Linked DNA regions of Homo sapiens. The protein of the gene in region 1 purifies or fractionates together with the protein of each later gene. This does not show direct contact. Each region holds a gene or a part of one and is shown on either strand. Other genes may lie near its edges.

Region 1 (4,468 bases):
GTGGAGGTTGCAGAGAGCTGAAATGGCGCCACTGCACTCCAGCCTGGGTGACAGAGTGAACTTCATCTCAGAAAAACTAAAACAACAACCACAAAAAAGATGGAAGAGGCATTACATTTGTGGGTGGAAGACATGAACAGAAAACATGTGCCAATTGATGGCAACGTGTTGAGCCAGAAAGTATTGAGCCTATACAAAGACTTCAGTGAGGGATTCCCTAAAACGAGTGATACCAAGCCACTTACTGCAAGTAATGGATAGTTACATGAATGTAAGAATAGATTTGGACTGAAAAATATAAAAATCACTGGAGAGGCTGCATCTGTCTCTTCATCTTATCACATAGGCATTTTATCATCATACATCATCTCAAAAAGAAGGGTCAGTACAATAAGATATTTTGAGACAGAAAGACCACATTTACATAACTTTTATTACAGTATAATTGTTCTATCTTATTATTACTTGTTAATCTCCTACTGTGCCTGATCTATAAATTAAGCTTTATCATAGGTATGTATATATAGGAAAAAACATAGTACACATAAGGTTTGGTACTATCCATCGTGTCAGGCATCCACTTGGGGGTCTTGGAAAGTAGCCCCTGCAAATACAACTGTATTTGTTAAATGAATGAATGGATGAGTAAGACATCGTATTCACTTCTTAAAGATCTTAAAATCTAGAGAGGAGAGAAACATTGCTGTAGGAGAGGATAAACAAAGGACTGTGAAATCTCTGGAGAAATTGAAATCAGGAAGGGAAGGGCAAATCGCAAAAGTCAAGCCAGGAGCATTAAGTTAGATTTGTGCTTTGAGATGAAAACCCCTTACAAATCCTAAGTCAGGGAATGCAATGGTTCTAGAGCCAACTCTAAAGAAAATTTCACACATGGGAAATACATCCTACTGGATATCCGGATTAAAAGCGTTCAGTAGAGACTGGTGCAGTGGCTCAGGCCTGTAATTCCAGCACTGTGGGAGACTGAGGCAGGCAGATCGCTTGAGCCGAGGAATTCGAGACCAGCCTGGGCAACATGGCAAAAACCCCATCTCTATTAAAAATACAAAAAATTAGCCAGGCGTGGTGGTACATTCCTGTAATCCCAGGTACTCAGGAGGCGGAGGTGGGAGGATCACCTGAGGCCAGGAGGTAGAGGCTGCAGTGAGCTGTGACCATGCCACTGCACTCCAGCCTGGGCGACAGAGTGAGACCCTGTCTCAAAAAATAAAATAAAATGAGAAATAATAAAATAAAATTAGCTGGGCATGTCGGGAGGCTGAGGTGGAAGGATTGCTTGAGCCCAGGAATTCGAGGTCATAGTGAGCTCTATCACGCCACTGCACTCCAGCCTGGACGACAGAGCAAGACCCCAGCTCTTTAAAAGAAAAGCGTTGAGTAAATACTTGTTGATTAATTCCATTTCTGGAAATAATCGGATTTATGAAAGAGGCCCTGCCCACCTCTTTGATATGGACTTGTACTAATGAACTACAATTCCCAGCATGCGTCAGAATTAGGGCCGTAGAGTTTTTTAAAATATGGACTACAACTCCCGGCATGCCACACCAGGATTCGAGGACCACACGCCTCAGCCAGCCCCGGCAAGGGCCTATCAGGGGTGGGTCGGGGCATCCGAGCGGGTTTGACGGAAGGAGCGGCGGCGACGGAGGAGGAGGATGGAGGCGGTGGTGTTCGTCTTCTCTCTCCTCGATTGTTGCGCGCTCATCTTCCTCTCGGTCTACTTCGTATCCTTGCCTGAGGCAGGCGAACGCCTTGCCGGGGGACACGGCTGAGGGTGGGCCAGTTGGGCACCCGGGCAGGTGTGTGGGACTAGGGAGGCGCCCGGCGGCGGGCGTGGGCTCCCTGGGAGCTGGCCTGGCCGGGGCGGTGGCGCGGGCCCCGGAGCGGGTAGGAGAGGCTGGCTGCCCTACCCGACGGGCCCTGCTGCCCTGCACGCACTTGCCCTGCCTGGGTTGCCGGCCGCCCCTCACTCGGGTCCGAGTGGGCCTCTCCGGGCGCGCCCCGTCTCGGCCTGCCCGCCTGCTCTCCGCTCGTCCCCGCGGCGCCCGGACCAGCCCTGCCTGAGCCACGGCCGCCCTCGGGAGAGAAGCGTCGCTGTTTTTCTGGGAGAGGCCCTGCGCCGTGCTCTTCGTCGGATATTGGGGGTCCCAAGGGCGGTCGCTTGCGACAGTCGGGTGCCGGGATAAGTGCGGGCCATTTGCCTCCTCCTGTTCCCCACGCAACACCCCCGGCACCCGCCCCTTTGTTCTGGCGGGTGTTAGTACTTGCAGGGACCTTTCACATCCAGGAGTTGACTCATTCGCCAAAGGAGCGAAGTTGCTTCCTTCACTGTGCCGTTTTGTAGTGAGTGTTGGAAAGGAGTTGTTTTAACAACTGTCTACAAAGTGATTATTTTGGTTGTCCCCGGTGGTTGCAGATCTGTAAATTCAATAACTACATCTGCTGTAGTTCCCAATCGTTTCTCAGCTTTTAAATTTTTCTATCGATCCATGTTAAAACTTAAGTTGCAGTATTCAAACTGTTTTCCAGAGCAATAAATGGTGGTTGAATTTAGCACTGCAGTAGCCATGTCGGCTACAACTCTTCCCATCTCTTGACAAAGCATCTAGGCTTAGTTGTTGCCCAATGTTGTATTGCACCATCCAGGTTTAAGTAATTAAATATAAGAAAAAACGTATGAGGAACTCCGCATTTCAGCTTCCTTTCTTGGAAATCACATGTACCTGTTTCTGATCGGATTAAACCATTTGTTTGCTAGAGCATGCGGGCTTTAGGATAGTCGTACAGAGTATATGTTCAGTGCAGCTTCATTTTTCATTGTGGACTGGCATCCTGTTGTAGTGGAAAGGGACAAAATTTGGAATCAGATTTCCTGGTCAGCTAGCTCTTTGCTTGCACATTATTTCCCTAAGCCTCAGTTTTCTGATCTTTAAAATAGGAAATGTTTATTTCCTAGATATGCACAATGAGAATGGTGCTGAGCACCCTAGCACAGTGCCTGCCCCATAGCTAATGTTCAGTAAATATTGCTCTGCCTTCGTGTCCCCACCCTCCCCAATTGAGCAGCAGTTTTTACTTTGATGATATCTAACGACAAGATTTCTGAGTTTTAGTAGGTTTGGGGAGCTGATTGAAAGGGCAGCATCACTTGCCTAAGTTTTGATGACCTCTATGCCCCTCTTGTGATATAAGGAACTAGAGCAAGCTTGTCCAACCCACGGCCCACGGGCTGCATGTGGTCCAGGACAGCTTTGAATGTGGCCCAACACAAATTTGTAAACTTTCTTAAAACATTATGATTCTTTTTTGGTGATTTTTTTTTAAGTTCATCAGCTATCATTAGTATTAGTGTATTTTATGTGTGGCCCAAGGCAATTCTTCTTCCAGTGTGGCCCAGGGAAGCCAAAAGATTGGACACCCCTGAACTAGAGCTTATGCTCAGAAATGTAGCTGGGTTTTTTCTTTTTGCAGTTTGGAAAACCAGGCTTGATAATTTTAAATAGCCCTGGTTTACACCAATTTATGCATTTAGAGAAATGGTAGGTGGAATGTTTGACTTAGACATTACATTAAAATACATTCGGGGGGTGTTTTGATGAAATTCAGCATATTCTGTATTTTAGAATAGTTGCACTAACTTAGGGATAGGAGGTGGAAAATGGTCACGGTAGACTTAATATAGGATATAAGAGTTTTCTTGGACTTTGAACTGTGGACAAAATCTACAGGAAGGGGAAGAGGTGAATATTCCAAATCAGACACTGGCAAGAGCGAAGGTGCAGAGACAGGTATGTTCGTGGATTTCTGGGCTATGGTTAACGAATAGACCATCTGGAGCACATGGTTGATTTTGGCGTCAGTAGAAGGCTAAGTTGGAAAGGCAGGATTACATCAGATTTTGGAGGGCTTGAATGTTAAGGGTGGGAGGGAAGTCTTTCACTTTTATCCTGCAGGCAATAGAGAGCCATTGAAAATTTTTATTTTCGGTAGTTTATTAGGAAGATGAATCTGCCGAGTGGGTTGGAAACAAGAAAGATTGGAAGATAAACCAACTGGATAGGGTCGTCTGGATTTCAAATAGAGTGCTGGTTGTGGGCAGGTGAAAGGAGGGAATATGTGAGTAGTATTTAGAAGAAATGATTGCCAGGACCTACAAATGAGTGATTATGATATATGAAACAGAAGGCAGAGATAGCTTTCCATATTTTGATCCTGGGCAAGTGATACTTGTGTCAGTAACAGAAATAAAACAAATTGGAGGAAGATCAATCTGTGGAGAAAGTGATGAGTTTGACTTTATTTTATTTTCATGTTTATTTTTGAGACAGAGTCTCACTGTCACCCAGGCTGGAGTGCAGTGGCGCAATCTTGGCTTACTGCTGCCTCCATCTCCTGGGTTCAAGCGATTCTCCTGCCTCAGCCTCTCAAGTAACTGAGACTACAA
Region 2 (3,824 bases), on another chromosome or scaffold:
GACACTGCACCCGGCCTAATATAATTATTTTCATGGGGCACATGAAAGCATTAGATTTCATTCTAAGCAAATGTTAAGAGCAAGTAAAATATCTTTGAGAATGTTAACATATATTGTATTTGAATCTTTTATACAGACTGACTACAAACTCCCTATGCACAAAATTGTTTTCCGACAATTGCTGAAAACCTACTAAGGCTATCAGTCCTTTTAGATAAATTTCAATTTTCATAGTGCAAAAAGTTCAGAAAAACATGCAAAAATTAAAATGCATGTGGAAAATGGAACAGAGACTTCAGATAGCTTTTAACTCACATACAGAGGGCCTTTAGAACTTCTTGCGAAAGATTTATAAACATATTTTAAAAATTTTAAGAAAAGCTTAAAATACTCTACAGAAATGTTTATAAGTGAAACAGCTGCTATAATATATTTTCTGTACTTATTTCTATATAATACTGTTACCTTGGCACTCTGCTTACAAAATCTTGTAGTGTTATTTCAGATGATGAACTCTCTGGACTCTAGTTTTGATGTGAATGCAAACGTAGGCTCTTGGGTGGGAGAAATTGTCTTGCTTTGTGAAATGCTGAAATCACAAAACTGAAATCACCCTCCTGATAAAATGCCAAAGAAAAGAGCTCTTTGAAGCATGAAGCTTGAGCAATGATAGATGTGCAGGTGCTATGAGCAGTTACCACTGTATTGCATGGCTGAACAATGGTACTAGTGCAGGCAGGCTATGAACTGTTAAACAGAAAAAAGAATCAGGTGGTAAACTTTAAGAAATTCTTGAGATTTTTAGGCAAGATGACAATCTGGGACAGAGAAGGTTCAAATCTCTCATCGTGTCTTAATAATGTTATTAAGTGGGTAGCCACCCATTACCCTTGGAAACTTACAAGCAGGATAAAGGAGGAAAGTGGGGACATGTAATGTAGCCCTTACAAAGTTACATTGCCTATTTTTAGCAGTTAAGAATCTAACTACGTAGGCAGGATGGAACTGCATGTCCTCATATATTAGTGAGAATGAACTTTGGATACCATTCCTTCATGTATCAAAGGGGAAAGATCTTAGATTTTTGTATACCGTACAGATTAGAACTGAAATGCCTACAGTTGTTCTTATTCATTACATTAAATTAGTGTAGGATGGATGATTTTGAGGTTTGGGTTGTAAAAGCAAAAATTAGTTTAGGAAATTAACTAAAATGCTGACAACTATTTAGAAAACTCTAGGGGTCATATTCTTTTTTTTTTAATTTTGGCAATATTATCTTCTAATTATTTTATTTTTATTATTATACTTTAAGTTTTAGGGTACATGTGCACAATGTGCAGGTTAGTTACATATGTATACATGTGCCATGCTGGTGTGCTGCACCCACTAACTCATCATCTAGCATTAGGTATATCTCCCAATGCTATCCCTCCCCCCTCCCCCCACCCCACAACAGTCCCCAGAGTGTGATGTTCCCCTTCCTGTGTCCATATGTTCTCATTGTTCAATACCCACCTATGAGTGAGAATATGTGGTGTTTGGTTTTTTGTTCTTGTGATAGTTTACTGAGAATGATGATTTCCAATTTCATCCATGTCCCTACAAAGGACATGAACTCATCCTTTTTTATGGCTGCATAGTATTCCATGGTGTATATGTGTCACGTTTTCTTAATCCAGTCTATCATTGTTGGACATTTGGGGTGGTTCCAAGTCTTTGCTATTGTGAATAGTGCCGCAATAAACATACGTGTGCATGTGTCTTTATAGCAGCATAATTTATAATCCTTTGGGTATATACCCAGTAATGGGATGGCTGGGTCAAATGGTATTTCTAGTTCTACATCCCTGAGGAATCGCCACACTGACTTCCACAATGGTTGAACTAGTTTACAGTCCCACCAACAGTGTAAAAGTGTTCCTATTTCTCCACATCCTCTCCAGCACCTGTTGTTTCCTGACTTTTTAAAGATTGCCATTCTAACTGGTGTGAGACGATATCTCATTGTGGTTTTGGTTTGCATTTGTCTGTTGGTACAGGATTGATTCTTTCTAAATGCTTGGAATAAAAATGGTCAGCTAGGTGTGACAAAAAACAAAACAAAACAAAACTGCTTGTTTTGATTAGAATCCTTTTTTTAAAATTTTATTATTATTATACTTTAAGTTTTAGGGTACATGTGCACAATGTGCAGGTTTGTTACATATGGATACATGTCCCATGTTGGTCTGCTGCACCCATTAACTCGTCATTTACATTAGGTATATCTCCTAATGCTATCCCTCCCCCGTCCCCCTACCCCACAAGAGTCCCCAGTGTGTGATGTTCCCCTTCCTGTGTCCATGTGTTCTCATTGTTCAATTCCCACCTGTGAGTGAGAACATGCAGTTTGGTTTTTTGTCCTTGCGATAGTTTGCTGAGAATGATGGTTTCCAGCTTCATCCATGTCCCTACAAAGGACACGAACTCATCATTTTTTATGGCTGCATAGTATTCCATGGTGTATATGTGCCACATTTTCTTAATCCAGTCTATCATTGTTGGACATTTGGGTTGGTTCCAAGTCTTTGCTATTGTGAATAGTGCCGCAATAAACACATGTGTGCATGCGTCTTTATAGCAGCATAATTTATAATCCTTTGGGTATATACCCAGTAATGGGAAGGCTGGGTCAAATGGTATTTCTAGTTCTAGTTCCCTGAGGAATTGCCACACTGACTTCCACAATGGTTGAACTAGTTTACAGTCCCACCAACAGTGTAAAAGTGTTCCTATTTCTCCACATCCTCTCCAGCACCTGTTGTTTCCTGACTTTTTAAAGATTGCCATTCTAACTGGTGTGAGATGATATCTCATTGTGGTTTTGGTTTGCATTTCTCTGTTGGTACAAGATTGATTCTTTCTAAATGCTTGGAATAAAAATGGTCAGCTTGGTGTGACAAAAAACAAAACACAACAAAACTGCTTGTTTTGATTAGAATCCTTTTTTTTAAATTTTATTATTATTATACTTTAAGTTTTAGGGTACAAGTGCACAACGTGCAGGTTTGTTACATATGTATACATGTGCCATGTTGGTCTGCTGCACCCATTAACTCGTCATTTACATTAGGTACATCTCCTAATGCTATCCCTCCCCCGTCCCCCCACCCCACAAGAGTCCCCAGTGTGTGATGTTCCCCTTCCTGTGTCCATGTGTTCTCATTGTTCAATTCCCACCTGTGAGTGAGAACATGCAGTTTGGTTTTTTGTCCTTGTAATAGTTTGCTGAGAATGATGGTTTCCAGTTTCATCCATGTCCCTACAAAGGACATGAACTCATCATAATTTATGGCTGCATAGTATTCCATGGTGTATATGTGCCACATTTTCTTAATTCAGTCTATTGTTTTTGGACATTTAAGTTGGTTCCAAGTCTTTGCTATTGTGAATAGTGCCGCTATAAACATACGTGTGCATGTGTCTTTATAACAGCATGATTTATAATCCTTTGGGGATATACCCAGTAATGGGATGGCTAGGTCAAATGGTATTTCTAGTTCTAGATCCCTGAGGAATCGCCACACCGACTTCCACAGTGGTTGAACTAGTTTACAGTCCCACCAACAGTGTAAAAGTGTTCCTATTTCTCCACATCCTCTCCAGCACCTGTTGTTTCCTGACTTTTTAATGATCACCATTCTAACTGGTGTGAGATGGTATCTCATTGTGGTTTTGATTTGCATTTCTCTGATGGCCAGTGATGGTGAGCATTTTTTCATGTGTTTTTCGGCTGCATAAATGTCTTCTTTTGAGAAGTGTCTGTTCATATCCTTCGCCCA

The links.
Region 2: the proteins of CNIH4 (region 1) and TACR3 purify together in Homo sapiens (co-immunoprecipitation; one large-scale study listed by IntAct). This does not show direct contact.

The regions. Positions count from the first base shown.
Region 1 is NC_000001.11:224,355,246-224,359,713, forward strand, and holds the start of CNIH4 (protein cornichon homolog 4), read left to right. Parts: upstream 1-1,633; 5' UTR 1,634-1,679; coding exon 1,680-1,748; exon of another isoform or gene 1,749-1,798; intron 1,799-1,800; exon of another isoform or gene 1,801-1,823; intron 1,824-4,468. UniProt on the Homo sapiens protein: Involved in G protein-coupled receptors (GPCRs) trafficking from the endoplasmic reticulum to the cell surface; it promotes the exit of GPCRs from the early secretory pathway, likely through interaction with the COPII machinery.
Region 2 is NC_000004.12:103,594,461-103,598,284, forward strand, and holds part of TACR3 (neuromedin-K receptor), read right to left. Parts: intron 1-3,824. UniProt on the Homo sapiens protein: This is a receptor for the tachykinin neuropeptide neuromedin-K (neurokinin B). It is associated with G proteins that activate a phosphatidylinositol-calcium second messenger system.